Regions from separate parts of the Homo sapiens genome. Here region 2 is linked to region 1. Evidence: fine-mapped expression QTL. Tissue or cell type: transverse colon. Region 1 holds a variant in brackets; the other region holds the start of a gene. All regions are shown on one strand. Distances are between the middles of the regions.

The links. PIP is the estimated chance that this variant, and not a neighbour inherited with it, causes the effect.
Region 2: PLK2 starts here. The variant in region 1 is fine-mapped to the expression of PLK2 in transverse colon (GTEx, PIP 0.93).

What each region holds. Positions count from the first base shown.
Region 1 is chr5:59,215,417-59,223,416 of GRCh38, forward strand. It overlaps PDE4D (phosphodiesterase 4D), which reads right to left. Exons shown (of 15, transcript NM_001104631.2): 2 at 361-552. Among named protein-coding and RNA genes, the nearest start is that of PDE4D-AS1, 180 kb to the left of the region's middle. The variant TA/T (reference allele first, on the strand shown) is at 4,815.
Region 2 is chr5:58,456,660-58,464,807 of GRCh38, forward strand. PLK2 (polo like kinase 2) reads right to left here and starts at 3,427. Exons shown (of 14, transcript NM_006622.4): 1 at 3,031-3,427; 2 at 2,326-2,433; 3 at 2,066-2,182; 4 at 1,740-1,869; 5 at 1,425-1,512; 6 at 829-924; 7 at 522-720; 8 at 286-433. The coding sequence starts at 3,300. RefSeq lists an enhancer at 1-771 and silencers at 1,423-1,717, 3,745-3,924.

The DNA.
Region 1 (8,000 bases):
GAAAATATCCATGTAGTTAGGTAGCTAAAACTCAGGCTCTACATAAATATAAGCTAATGATTTAAGTGTTAGTTTCCATTAAAAATTTAATTCTCAGTTTTCCTATAAAGTATTTTCTGGGAAAATAAATACATGCGTGTGTGTGTGTGTGTGTGTGTGTGTGTGTGTGTGTTAATCAAGAGTGACAGTGCACTCAGGTTAAATCTACCATTCATTTCTAGCTTGTATAATTTTATTCATATTCTTTCTACATTGGAGGAGAGTGATACAGTTGAACAAAAGTCATTAGTTTTATTATGTCATCAGCTCTAGATATAAATTTACTCGGTTTTCTCTCTCTTTGCCTGCCCTTGTACTTACATATCACTGGCAATGGAGGAGTTCCGGGACATAGACTTTGGAGAGAGGTCATAATCGCTGTCGGATCGATACAGGAAGGACTCCCGTCGTTGACTGTGGACAAAATTTGCTTGGAGAATTAGCCCGGATCCTGGGCTGGTCATGGGATCCAAGGGACTCCGTCCCGCAGATGTGCCATTGTCCACATCAAAACTGTAAAGGAAGGAGAAGGAATTATGTTGCTGTGAACATTCACATGTTCATATTTTCAAAAAGCATTTAGCGTCAGCTGAGGAACTGACAGTGGAATTAGCAGGAATGAAAATTACAGCTAATTTCTGCCATAAAAATATGATAATATTGAAATACATAAAAGAAAAACACATTGACTTCACATTCTTGTTCTCCTGGATACTGTTGTTAACTGACCAGATACAAGATACAGGTTTTTCCAAACTCTACTTCAGTTAAAAGGGAAACACTCTGCAAAACATAATCTTCTAAGTACAAAATTCCTTTCGGAAAATAACAAATACACAGTAATTCATCAAATATTTGAATTCGATTCAACAAATACCCATTTTGTGCCTAATGCTGTTCTCCCAAACCTGGGCTTCTCCCTCCACACTCCTACCCTATAACATCCATCCAAGCATTAATTTCTATTGTACCCACTTCCTTCCATCCCTACTACCAATATTTTAAATTCAGGTCTCCATCAAATTTCACCTATATTATTATAACAACCTTTATATTAGTGTCTTGAATCCATTTTCCAGTGTCATTCTTCAGTTTAAAACCCTTCAGTAACTTACCATTGCTCTCAGGATGAAGTCAAAATTTCTTTGCCAGACTGCCAGTCTAACCATCTGCTCTCAATTGCAATTAGTTGCCCCCAGCCTCAACTTGCCATCCTCAGCTATTGGGTACTTCTTGCTCAACTCATATTGAGGCACTATCTCCTTCTCACAGGCCATCACCACCTCACCTCCTGCTCCCCTAAATAATCAAATCCCCTTTCCCCTGCCTAACTGTCACTCATCCTTGAGACTTAGCCTGCACCTGAAAGGCTACCCTGGTACATCAGAGCTTTATGAAAGGCCCTTTCTCTACGCTCCCAAGACACTTTCCCACTCCCTAATGACAGAATTTACAATGAATTGAAAATGTTTTTCACCCGGTCTCCATTCCTAGATTGTGAGCTCTCTACAAATGGAGACTCAGCGTATTCTTGGCACATTGAAAACTGTGCCCAAGTGTCTTGAGTAAATGATTAAATGAATAAAAGGCACTGTGCTCAGCAATACATATTTTAGAGCTGGGAAAAAATCTACACACACAGTTCTTAACGTCATAGTCCTTATAATCTAGATAAACTTTCCACAAAGAACCTTTCTAGTGAAACATCAACCAGTATTAAAATAAAGTCAACTTTCATGTGTTCTTAGGAGAGGAGGGTGATAGCTTATGATAGCCCAGCAGGTGTGTGGTTTTAAAGAAAAACTTGTTGAAAGAATAAATAAACATGTGAATTCAAGTTTTGCTGTCATTAATATTTTCCCCATTAGAATCTTTATTCAAACTATTAACTAGCTCATTTTAAAACATTCCTTTATTTTCTTTATCGGAGTCATTAATAAATAGAGTTATGACTCTAAGATTGGAAGATGTTTCATGGATCACTTTTGAATCTGTGATCAAATAACAGTGGCTCCGAAATAATCCATCAAATAAACAGAAGAGGGAAAACTCATTATCTTGAGCAGCTGTAAATATGTTTTTCCAACTTAAAATTTTCTTAGAATTGTGTCTCTTTATAGATATATTTATTTGGTTCAGGAAGGACAATGAGAGATTGTCAAGTCGAACAGACTCACTTTACAGACGAGGATACCAGGTCCTAGAAAAGTTAATTGACCAGTCACTGAGCTAACTGCATTGAATCATCGATTGTTCCTAAAGTCCTTCCAGCTCTACTGCATGATTATATAAACCACAAATATATGTGGCACCCAAACAGGGGACATCTGTTTCACCAGAATAGGATAGGCACATATGTATGTGAAACCTTGTCAATTCCCAGGAAGGCTGGAAGGGGAGGATGGTCTCTAATCATTCAATAGACATACATTAGGGATCTTTGGCAAACTCTCCTTGGATATGCTTAAATAGGCATTTATTAAGCACTTAATATGAGTGCATTAAGATACAAAAATAAAGGATGAATGACTAACTCAGGCTGGGATATCTGAGAAGTTTTCATGAAGAGTAGTATTTAAGAAGGTTTTTGAAGGTATTTAGTACACAACTGGAAGACATTAAAAACTTCTAAATAGTGGGGGTTTGGCAAAGTAGATTTCTCTTCTAAGAAGATAGTCATGGCAGCTTTTCAGCATGAGGAGGACCTAGTAATGTGAATGCCTGTAGAAATGTTTATGTTTATTTCCCTTTAATATCAAGATATTCTTATTGCTACACTTTAAAAAAGAAAATACCCCCTCCTTCCTGTGCATGAACAGAAATGTAAGAGATACAGAAGTGTGAGTTTTGGTTTAGTTTTTTTCAGTTCAACTGAGTAAACACCAAATTTGTATAAATCAGTAATTTTTTCTTTAATTATAATTTTTCCAATTAAATCAAGCAAGTCTTAACACTCCACTATAAGTTTTGAAACAAATATTGCTAAATACCTTAAGTCATTTAGATAGTTATGATATTTTTAAATCTTACAACTTTTAAGCCATAATATTAGCACTAAAACCAAAACATTTATTAATAGGTCAGGAAGTGCTTGATATGAGATATTCTAGGGGCTTTAATATTTTTCTTTGTATACTGTAATATAAAAATTTGTCCACTAGATGGAGATCATTTTCTTAAACAAGGAAACTATTTTCTACTGAAGGGTTAAATAACCTTAAAGGCCTAAATTATTTCTTAGGAACTCATGAAAATAACCCTTTAAATGACATCCAAAAAACAAAGTTCACAATGTATACTAAGTAATTATCAATATTGATAAAATTACATTAATCTAATATTAGTATTAGCTTTACAAACATTGAGAATGAAGATCTAAAAATAGTGACTGATATTTTATTGGACTTTTTCTTAAATGATGAGTTCATGTCCTTTGTAGGGACATGGATGAAATTGGAAATCATCATTCTCAGTAAACTATCGCAAGAACAAAAAACCAAACACCGCATATTCTCACTCATAGGTGGGAATTGAACAATGAGATCACATGGACACAGGAAGGGGAATATCACACTCTGGGGACTGTTGTGGGGTGGGGGGAGGGGGGAGGGATAGCACTGGGAGATATACCTAATGCTAGATGACGAGTTAGTGGGTGCAGTGCACCAGCATGGCACATGTATACATATGTATCTAACCTGCACAATGTGCACATGTACCCTAAAACTTAAAGTATAATTAAAAAAAAAAAAGAAAAGAAAAAAAATACTTGAGAAGACTTAATTGAATTTCCGTAACAAATCACTGAGTACTTATTGTGTTGGAGTAAAGTAACTTGAGCATCATTAATAGTCTGGGGTTTCACTCTAAATTTTGGCACCACAAGTATTCTCAGAATACGGTTTGTTCTGGGAAGTGAACCTAGGGTCTGAGTTCATTTGCATAATTTATTTCCATGATATTAAATCCTCTTATAATCAAAATTAATTATCAAGAAAAAGTAATATTACCGAGAATCTCCAGTCTGAAGTATCAGCCAATGTCAGTATTAGTGAATGACTTTATACAAAGAGAGACTTTGTATTTTGAAATAGTCATTGAATAAACTTTTACATTACATCCTATGTCCTTAGATCAGCACTTGAATAAGTACAGATATACTACACATTGTCCTTTTCTAGAAAGCACTAAAGTCTAGTTAAGGTAATAGAACATCAAGCAACCAGAGAAAATAAAAGCAGCAAAACAGGTGGCATCTGTATTAAATAGCATATAAATACTAAAACACGAAATTGTATTATATAGGCAATCAGACTATGTGATGTAGACAATGAATGTAAAGGGAATTTAAGAAGTTGCAGGATGTACACCTTTGAAGGAGAGTTAAAAAATGTCCAGCCAGAGTAGAGCTGGGGTTGGGGGTGGAGGCCATCCAGCAAAAGTGAAGCCACAAAAACAAAACCAAGAAGGAATGAATAAGGCGTGTATATAAAACAGGACATTTAGTGTCTGGCTAAATTTGAGGCTTGGTATTAAAGAATAGTGGGGACCTATAAAAATGGCAATTTTGTACAGTTCAACCTAATAGGTAGGGATGGATGTGTTTATGGAAAGCTGGGCCAAGGAGTGTCAGCAGAAGCTTGTTATAAAGACTTACGTGGAAACACACAAATCAACTTTTAACATTGAAATCTCAGGGGAGTAAGATGAGGAAGACCAGTATTTGTTAAAATAAACATGTTGCTTTTGCAACAAATAAAAGGTAGAAAACAGAG[TA/T]GAGGCTGAGCACAGTAGCTCATGCCTGTAATCCCGACACTTTAGAGGCACACGTGGGAGGATCGCTTCAGACCAGGAGTTCAAGGTTACAGTGACTGATCGTGTCACTGCACTCCAATCTAGGCGACAGAGCATGACTCTGTCTCAAAAAAAAAAAAAAAAAAAAAAAAAGAAAGACAAAAAACAGAGTTAAAAAAAAAAAGGAGAAAAATAAATGTTTTAACTACAAGAGGACCCCCAAAAAGGCTTGTTCATTAAATACTTCAAATATTAGAACTAGGGGGTTTGCCTTGAGTAGGGAGGTTAGTTGTGGATTTTAAAAGGCAGCACATTTTTACTCAGTAGGTAGTAAGTTAACTGAGAATTAGACACTTACTTAACTTTCTGAAAGTTAGCCTAATTAGTCAGTTTGGGCTGAAATTATAGATGGCTTCAAATAAGCTAGTTATCTTTGAAACATAATTTTATCAATAGTCCACATCGTGGTGTTATGAATAAAACAAGAAGGTGATGAAGGATAAGGTAGCCCTAACCTTAGATGCTGGTATCAAAATGATCAGTTGTGAATTTTCCAAAGACATTCTTTAGAAAACACTTGGATGTGGTGAATTCTCTTTTGACTCACAGCCAATTAGATGGAGCCCAAGCAAAAAACTAGAAGTTTGAAAAAGTAACTAAAGGATTGGGGAGAGTAAAAATTACCAAGTTTAATGATGATGGTGGCAATAATAATAATGTTAATAACAATAAAACTTCTGGAGCACTTTCCATGTTCCAGGCGCTGTGCTTTGCATATATTATCTCATTTAATCCTCACAATAACACTTTGAAGTAGGCACTGTATTTTCCATTCGACCATGGGGACTCTGAGGCATAGACAAGTGACTCTATGTTCAGTAGTATGCTCAAGCTCATAAGTGGGTTTTAAACTCAAGCTGTCTGATTCTAAGGCTGGGGAGAATGGACTCTGTTTACACCTCTATTATGAAGTTTCATTTAAAAAAATACAAGAATACCTTTTAGCTTCCTCACCTGCAGGGAACTTTTGAAAGTAACATTCTGATTAACTTACAGGTGACGCATGCAAAGGCTAATTCTGAGACTAAATTTTCGTATGGGGCTGGGTGTGGTGGCTCATGCCTATAATCCCAGCACTTTAGGAAGCCAAGGCTGGTGAACTGCTTGAGCCCAGGAGTTCAGGGCCAGCCTGGGCAACATGGTGAAACACCATCTTTACAAAAAATTTTAAAATTACCTGGGTGTGGTGGTGCTTATCTGTAGTCCCAGCTACCCCAGAGGTGGAGGCAGGAGGATCACCTGAACTAAGGAGGTCGAGGCTGAAGTGAGCCATGATTACGTCACTGCACTCCAGCTTGGGCGACAGAGCGAGACTCTGTCTCAAAAAAAAAAGTTTTCATATGACCCAACATTTTGGAATTTGCCAAATCCCCAGCTTTTTCCAATTCTGAACATAACAGTAGGGTGTAAAAAAGTCTTTGCTGTAACCCATTTGGCGGGTTTCTTTATAGCATTTGAGATTTCATTTGGAATTAAGGAAGGGTCAGTGGGTCTGCAAAAGGGCTTAGCAAATGGAACTAAGTGAGGTGCTTTCTTGTTCCATATGTTTGCTTCCCTTAATGCAATTTAAGAATGCACACAATTCTTAAAAGAGATAACTTTTGCCAGAAGGCAGTTTTGGAGGAGGAATGATATAGCTATATTTGGTCTCCCATGAGGGGGCAGTAACAGTAATGACCAGCTGGCCTGCTGCATTCAGAAGTGTTAAAGAATGTGTGTGGCTAGCACTACTCATGACCATTTACTCCACAGACCCATCCTTTTCTATGGAACCAGCCCCCTACAAGAAACAAAGAGAAGTCGGACAAACTGACGAATGAACTAATTACTCCCAGTTCTCCACACTGTTCCATTTCAGTGGAATTACTGGATGGTAATACAGTTCCAATCTACCTTTCATCCACGCTCTCAACTGCTCGCATACTTTGTGTCTACTGACCTTGTAATTGTTTGTCTGCTGAAGGTCATTTCTCATCTTTTTGGCCTTTTGCTAGACACTGCTTCCCTAGTTTAAACTTTTCCCAATTTATTTTTGACCATGATATGGGCCCTCTCCTGAGCCAGAGTCCTGCTACTGTGCTGAGTAAATAGCTTTCCTCATCTATCCTAGCCATCAGGACCTTATACTTAGCACTGACCCCCAGTATGAAGCCCAAAGTGGGTGGGGCAATGAGGGCCTCAGTGGAGCAGCTGCTAAGGAACCTCTATCAATAGCAGCCTCCATTACCGAAGCATCTATGAAGGCCACTCACAGGGAAGATCTTGCTGAATGTCGCTGGGAATCCTGGGAGCCATCACTGAAGCCAGGACCATCTGAAAGCTGCCTTTTTCACTACATAGTAAGAACAATGGCACATAGAAAATATTGACCTACCAAAAATGTTCCTGTTAAGATGTTTATTTAAGAGTTAGAAAACACAGGTTAAATTTGAAATCTTGGTTCAGCCACTTCCTATTTGGGTGCTCTAGGGCAAGTTGCTGTATTTTCTAGGCTTTCACTGCTGATAAAGATAATTACAATACCTAGCTCTAGGGCCATTATAAGGATTAGAAGAGAAAATGTTTGGAAAGCATTCACCACATTGCCTGGCAGCTAGTACACTCCCATTATTTAGCAGCTATTGTTTTTCATTTTTATTACTCTTTTTCTCCCAGGGAGATCTTCATCTAGGTCATTCTCTTTAACTTTATTTGAACACATGGCTTTGGGAAGAACCTAAAGGGAGAGATGAAAGAGGAAGAGAACTGAGGGCCAAATCACCTGAATCAGCCCTTGCAATCAATGAGGTGACAGATGCTGGAGCCAGATTGCTCTAAAAGTTTCAGCTGCTTTTATGTCTCCACCCAACTCCATAATTCCAGTGTGATAACATCTGGGGAGGGTGGAGACTGCTGATTTTTTTCTAGATATTACTCACTGAGGAGAAAGAATAATTTCCTACCAGGAAGTGTGGAAGGCTTGGAGGTCCCAACAACCTAGGTGGGGCTCCAGCTGAATATAATGAGCAGAAACAGTCCTTCAGACCTCAGGTCTCCAGACACAGGGTGTAGCTTGGGGACCTCAGGTCACAATTATACTGATGTTTATATTCCTGTACTCCACTCTC
Region 2 (8,148 bases), 760 kb before region 1:
TTCTCCTTCTTGCATTATTGACCAACTTATGAGCATCCTGGGCAAAAATAGCATTTTACCTTTGCCTTTAGCTGCAGCTACCCCCAAAAGCCCTCTTTAGTGTTTGCAAAATAAAAAGCTATCAATCACAATTCAAGGTATGGATTTATTATGCTATAAATATCAACATTTAAGAATACGCAAATATGGCCAAGTTATGCTAATATAAAATTCTCTTTTAACTAATTTACCAAATTTAAATATAATATTGGGTACGAAAAAGGAAAAGAAGTCTTGTTAACTTACTATGTGTGTCAATATATCTTGCTTTGTCTTTTTTGCCACCAAAAAGAGCAGCAGCTGCTTTCTTAAAGAAATTCTTAGCTGGGCTTGATAAGTGGAAATCTGGAACTGTATGACAACAGCTAGAAGACAGTCTGTCCGGAGTGAAGCCCTGTGGAATATTAGAAAAAGCCTTCAGTAACCTGTCAGGTAACTGGGATCAATACCAGGTAATTAAAAAAAAAAGATAGTGCACCAACCTGCAAAAAAAAGTCATGTCGAATGATGTCATCCAAACTGGGACGATCCTCTGGGTTTTTGGACAACATACTAGCAATTAAGTGCTTGGCAGGAGCCAGCAATGAGGACGGCATTGTATACCTTGCTTCCCTTATGCACCTATAAGTTTCTTTGAGATTTGTAGTTTCAAATGGGGGCCTCCCTAGTAACATTGTATACCTGTGTGCAAAGAAACACATCTTTAGCAATGGTCATAAAGCAACTCTTTTCAAGTGTTAAAATCTAAATCCGAATTTGCTTTTTAATTATTCTGCTGCATTTACTTACATTACACAGCCCAGGGCCCAAATGTCTGATTCACAGCCATGTCCTTGTTTGTTGAGGACTTCAGGAGAGAGATAATTTGGGGTACCACATATCGTTCTGGAAAGACAAAATATTGAGATCGTGTTAGGAACTATTCCACTACTTAAACTTGGTTCTCTTGACATGACTTGATGGGAGACAAAATCTTAAACAAAATCTTAAAATCTATACTGAATTTCTATTTGGAAACATTTGACTTTTGGCATCTGAAAATTCAATTGAGATCTGACCAAATGAGTTTTGGTAATTTTTAAAAATGCACACACGTTGTTTTAGCCCACATGCAAAGTGTTGTTAACCAACTAAAGCCAGGGACGTCGTGGCATTTTATACATTTTAAGCCAAGAAAAGACTTCATTGACTGCTTTCATAATCAATTTAGAGGCACAGGGTGCTCTGTCTAGTCCATAGTGGGCATTTAATAAGTATTTCTTTAAATTAACATTGCTATGATTTATAGATTTTATTACCGGACCTCTGAAACATTAAATGCAAAATAATGAAGGCATATTTGGTCTCCACAAAAGTCTACTAGGATGCATCTTTCTGACTCTTACCTCCTTCTGTGTTCCAAGGGTTCTAGCCTGGCTGCCAGACCGAAGTCCCCAACTTTTAGTTCCATGGCTTCATTAATAAAAAAGTTCCCTAGACGATAAACAAAACAAAATGTGAATCCCTTTGAAAATGCGTTCTAACCAAGTACACACACATCCACTTTGGAGCCAGGCAGCCAATTGTTATATGAAAGTCGCCCATTCAAAAGCAAGATTGCAGACACGAGATCCCAATTAAGAACATTAATATGTAAAAAAAAACAGAGAGAGAAAAAAGAACTCTAACACAAAACTCAGCTTTTGGCGTCAATGACTTACCTAGTTTGAGATCTCTGTGCAAGATTTCTTGTTCATGAAGGTATTTCAGTCCAGACACAATCTGCCTGAGGTAGTATCGAACTTCTGGCTCTGTCAACACCTTTCTTGCTTTCAAAATATGAGCCATTGACTAAGAAGAGGAGAAGGAAAAAAGAGAATCTGTCAAAACAGTTATCAAAATCACTGGTTTCCCTTTGCAGGATGAGCAATGAAAGTTAACTTTGCAGTGTAAGTGCTGCCACAGCTAAAATCCCAGATAAAATACTCTTTGAATACCATGTTAATTCGGGGTAAGCAAATGTTCTCAAATAGGAGTTGACACTTACCCTTCTACTGCAGTATTCCAAGAGAATGTAAATGTTTTCTTTGTCCTCGAAGTAGTGGTAAAACTGCACTACATGCTTATGATGAAGAATTCTGTGAAGCTCTATTTCTTTGTCAATCTAAATGAAAAAGCAAGGTAAGGCTTATTAGCTTCCAGTCACCTCGGAAAAGCCAGTGATTACACATGCAGAAGACATTTTCCTAACAGGGAAGGGCCATCCTTGCACACAAAGAAAATACTTTACTCAAGAGTCATACGCACCTTTTCCCTTTGATGAGGTTTAGCTACTCTGCTGTGAGGAATAATTTTTGCGGCGTAGACTTTGTTATTTGTCAAATCTGTCATCTCGTAACATTTTGCAAAGCCACCCTGAAAGGAAACAAAGCCGAGACGGAATTGAGGATGGCACAAAAATGGACGGCAGATATTTTAAATAAATAAATAAATGGGAAGAAAGAAAAGCAAAAAAAAAAAAATTGAGGAATGGAGGAGGGTGGACAGAGGGAGGCATTCGACTTCGTTAAAGCTCCCTCATGAAGAGAAATGCATTGCTGGAAACAGCAAGTTCAAACAGTTTCTCTTCTTCTTTTATAAAGGGGAGCTTTATGGAGGGAGTTGGAACGGGGAGACATGAAAAATAATCTCTGATGAGACTTGTCAGGAAAATTCCCTGGGAGCAGATAGAGGGAGAGAGGTCTGATGTAGAAAGCCCTCGCTTCCAGACTCAAGATGCATTTCTCTGGGCTGCGGGAGACACACAGTTCTGAGGCTAAGAATGCAAAGCCGATCCCCAGCGCTGCCGGCGCACAAAAGCCAGAGGGCAGGTGAGGAGCCCACCTCGCGCTGGGATCGGACCCCCGAAAAACCCGGAAGCGGCGGGCGAGGGACCCCGCGGGCTTGCCCGGCTTGGGGTCGCCCGGACAGACCTCCCGCCCGCCCGGCAGCCCGGCGCCCTCCGCTTGTCACCTTTCCCAGCACTTTGCCCCGGCAGTAGCGCTTCCCAGTCGTGGGGTCGACGATAATCCGCGAGATCTCCGGCCCCGAGTGCGAATGGTGGTGATGGTGGTGAGGGGCCGCCGGGGGCACTTGCGCCTGGGACTGAGGTGGCTGCGATTCCTCGGGGGGCTGCGGCGGCCGCTTCTTCTTCGAGTCCGCTCCGCAACCCTTGCCCAGCGCCTGCTCGCACATTTTGGTGCTGGCGGCTGGCTGGTAGGTGATAGTCCGCAAAAGCTCCATGGTCGCCTTGCCGCCCCGCACTGCCCGCTGCCACCCCCTAGGCGCGGTCACACGTCCGAGCCGGCCGTGGTCCTCGCACCCTTGCCTCTGGTGCCGACTAGCACCCAACACCCCGGTCCACTTGTGCGAGTGAGAGCGCTCGGCGAAGTCTTATATACGGGGAGGCGGGAAGGGGGCGGAGACTCGATACGCGACATCACGTCACGGCCTATGCCCCGCCCCACGGCCGGCCGAGCGCGCGTGGCCGGGAAGCAAGTCTTGTCCCGCCACCCGGGTCTCGCTTCCCAGCGGAGCCGCGCGCCTCAAACGCCGGCCGCCGAGATCTCTTGCGGCCGCGGGAAGGCCTTCAGAGCCGTCCGTGGGCCCCGCTGTCCCGTTCTTCGAAGGCTCCGAGCCTCAGCGTACAAAACAGAATCGCGAGGGCCGACGCCTGGCCTCACCCCCGCCCCAGCCGCCTGGTGGCAGGGCAGTGCCGTGACCCGAGCGAGTCGGGCGCGGGTGTAGACGCAGTCCCTCCCCCGCACAGCCCTTCCCGGCCGCCCGGGGCCTCCTGTGTCAAGGTATCAGGGTGCCCGGAGCCCGCCGCACGGGCAGGCGAGGCCTCCTCCGGCCGTATGACAGGGCTCGTCTGCAGCTGCCCCGCAGTGCCTGCCCGCGCTGTGACGAGCTCGCTGGTGTCTAGCTGGGGCAGTGCCGAGAGGCCGTGGGGGTGAAAGGCCGGGATTCGTGGAGCCGGGCATTCGAGCCCATCGCGCTAGGGCAGACACGGGCCCGCAGCCGGGATCCCGGGCCGATCGGCCAACCGTGCCAGGATCCCACTCGAGGCCCGTCTGGCCCCCGCCCATGCCCCTAGAGCGAGCCTCTGTCTGAGGTCGGCCCCTGAACCTTGCAGAGCGAGGTCGGCGTCCTGGCAAGGCGTCCTCCGCCCGTAGCCCGAAGATTGGAAAGCAAGGGCGCCATCTTGTGGAATGTTCCGGAATGCCGTTAGGTGTCGAAGTGGGCAGCGGTTGACAACCGTGGGCCTTTGACAGTTACTAGTACTAAACATCGATGCCGATTGTGAGTTTCCAATCAGAGTCATCTATGACTTCTTCCGAATGCATCTGTTGAGATGGCTCATGAGCTGCCCTGGTTCCTGGAGAGTCAATCTGAGACTTTCTGGGGTAGGGAGATTGGTAGGATGAAGAGAGGAGCGTAGGCCAGTGAGTGCAAACACAGCTTAGTTTCCCATTTCCAGATTTTGCTGTGCAGTTTGACTAATCTAGGAACACGTTTTTTTGTTTGTTTTTCTTGTTCTAATTACGATAGAGTAACATTTATTGAGGACTGTGCAGTATTTTTAAATGCCTTATTTCATCCTACAACAATTCTGAGAGAAATATTGTAAGGAAGGAAAAATAATTTTCCACCTTTCAAAGTTTTGGCCTGGGTCGCTGTAACCAGACAGATTAACAAGAAAACAAAGAAGCTTATTAACATATACGTCTCATATATACATGGGAGATAACCAGGAAAATTAGAGATGGTTTAAAATCGGGCTTAAATACTATCTTTAGCTAAACCAAAAGAAAAGAGTGGGGCAGGCAAGTTAAGGAATCATGACCAGGAAATGTACGGTAAACAGGAGTGGGGTTTCTTATTTCTTCATTGATAAGTTTTTCATGATTTAGAGTCATTCTTCCTGGTACAGAGGAGACACTTTTACAAATGGAGTTTTGTGGGGTTTTTTTGTTTTTTGTTTTTGTTGTTTTTTTTTTTAGTGAATGTACGTTTCCCTTACGAAAGGGTAATATGCCATTTTTAGAGCATTTCCTGGGTCTGCTGGTTCTCAAAATAATTATCTTAAAATAATCTTTATCCCAGGGCCATATTTGGGGTGGCATATTCTCATCTCCTACATTATTATTCCCATTTTATAGATGAGGCTTGGAGAACTTAGGTAATTATTGTATATTTTTACTAGATCATCGAGGTTAGGTTAATTAGCAGCACACTTGAATCTTTTTACCTATGTTAACAGGATATGGTAAATAGTTTTTTGAAGCTAAATTCCAGAGAAATTTAGAATACCAGATTATTGAATCCCTGGAAGGTACATACAAAAAGTTGCTGCAGTCCACTGTCAAATTTAGGTATGTGTGGTATCAACATTAATCGAACATTTACAAAAATACTGTGTCTCAAATACTTCCAGCATAATGTGGAAAAGAGGCTTATTGCCATTAGAGAGGAGAAAGGGAAAGGCTTTGCCATTAGCGAGGAGAAAGGGAAAGTCTTTGCTGTCACTTCCGTTTTTGATTCTTTAAAGAGTGCAGGGCAAGTCCAGGCATGTTTCTCATAAGTGACAATAGACTTTAACCCCAAGATTGTCAGGGATGGAATAAGGGGTGGGGCTTAGGGGTGGAAATTCAGAATTACGTAATTATCCTCTTTATTCATAAGCCCAGGGGTGACCTTTGCTTCCCAGATTTGTGCAAACCTACTCTCTAAGATGTAGAAGGCTTGCAGGTTTAGAAAATATTACTAGAATTTATCAAAGCTAGTTTACACACCATGTCTTTATGGTTGATAATAAACTGTATATGTATACATATGTGTGTATGTGTATGTGTATTCATTTGTGGCCTAAGATAAAAAACTGAAGAATAGATTGTCATGATTTTTTTTTAAATGTCAATTTCTTCTTTGATTAGCATACACTATGGTATGTATCTTTACCAAATGGACTTCAGTATTTGATAAACTGTTGAACATTCCATGTGAAATTCAGGTCTGTCTGCCACAACATGGAGGCATTTAATAAAATATTAACGCTGTGTAAATCTTATGTTGTCTTCTTTCCGACTGAGAACATGATTTTTTTGGGGTTGTGGTGCCATCATGTGGACAGAACCAAAATTGTAGTCTATAGAACAAAAAAGGAAATAAATGCGCTTTCTATTAAGTAGACTAATTACTAAATATCATGGAGTCAATTTGGTAACCAGTAGGAAGGAAAAAATGGATCCATGCTTCATATCTGGCTTATTTTCAAGCAAATGAAAGTTTGAAATACGTGAAATTTTAAGACAATATGAAAGAATTCTTTCATAGCCTGAATGTGGTAGAACTTTCAACTATTTACAAAATCTAGAATCCCTAAAAAAAAAAAAAAAGCAAGATTCATTAATGTAACTATATAGAAACAAAACCCTTTCATTGATTTAAAATAACAAAACACCACAAATAAAGTCAAAGGATAAATAACACTGGAAAAATTATTTTCAACTCATCACAGAGAAAGAGCTTATCTTCCTGTTATATAAAAACTCCTACAATTGGATAAAATACCAATTATCCAACAGAAAACAAATGGTTCTTACATTTGCTCAATTTCACTCTTCAGAAGAGAAATTGAAATGAAAGATATACTGAGGCACCCTTTCCTACAAAATTGGCAAAACCCTCAAAAGTTGCCGTGAACATGCTCAACTGCTGAAGTGTTGAGGAAGCAGCACTCCATATATTGCTGTTGGGAATGGAAATTGATATAATTTCAGTGAAAAGTAATTTGGCCAAATCTATCAAATTTAGAAATGAATGTATTCTCTTACTTAGGAATTTATCCTATGGATATAATCTCATATATAAAATGATGCATGACACATCAACAAATGATAAAAACCCTGGCCAAATTAAGCCCAATTCTTACATTTGTCAATAAGTTTTTATTTAAAAGAACCGTGCCCATTTGCCGGGATCTAATTAAACTAAAGAGCTTCTGCACAGCAAAAGAAACTATCGTCAGAGTGAACAGGCAGCCTACAGAATGGGAGAAAATTTTTGCAATCTATCCATCTTACAAAGGGCTAATATCCATCATCTACAAAGAACTTAAACAAATTTACAAGAAAAAAAACAACCCCATCAGAAAGTGGGCAAATGATATGAACAGACACTTCTCAAAAGAAAACATTTATGCTATCAACAAACATGAAGAAAAGCTCATCATCACTGGTCATTAGAGAAATGCAAATCAAAACCACAGTGAGATACATCTCACGCCAGTTAAAATGGCGATCATTGAGAAGTCAGGAAACAACGAATGCTGGAGAGGATGTGGAGAAATAGGAACGCTTTTACATTGTTGGTGGGAGTGTAAATTAGTTCAATTGTGGAAGACAGTGTGGCCATTCCTCAAGGATCTAGAACCAGAAATACCATTTGACCCAGCAATTCCATTACTGAGTGTATACCCAAAGGATTATAAATCATTCTACTATAATGACACATGCACATGTATGTTTATTGCAGCACTGTTCACAGTAGCAAAGACTTGGAGCTGACCCAAATGCCCATGAATGATAGATTGGATAAAGAAAATGTGGCACATATACACCATGGAATACTGTGCAGCCATAAAAAAGGATAAGTTGATGTTCTTTGCAGGGACATGGATGAAGCTGGAAACCATCATTCTCAGCAAACTAACACAGGAACAGAAAACCAAACACTGCATGTTCTCATTCATAAGTGGGCATTAAACAATGAGAACATATGGACACAAGGAGGGGAACATCACACACTGGGGCCTATCAGGAGGTGGGGGCCTAGAGGAGGGATAGCATTAGGAGAAATACCTAATGTAGATGACGGGTTGATGGATTCAGCAAACCACCAAGGCACGTGTATACCTATGTAACAAACCTGCACATTCTGCACATGTATCCCAGAACTTAAAGTATAATAAAAAAATTTTTTTTAAAAAGACTACACATTGGGTACAGTGTACACTGCTTGAGTGATGGGTACAGCGAAATCTCAGAAATCACCACTAAAGGACTTAATGTAACCAAATACCACTTGTTC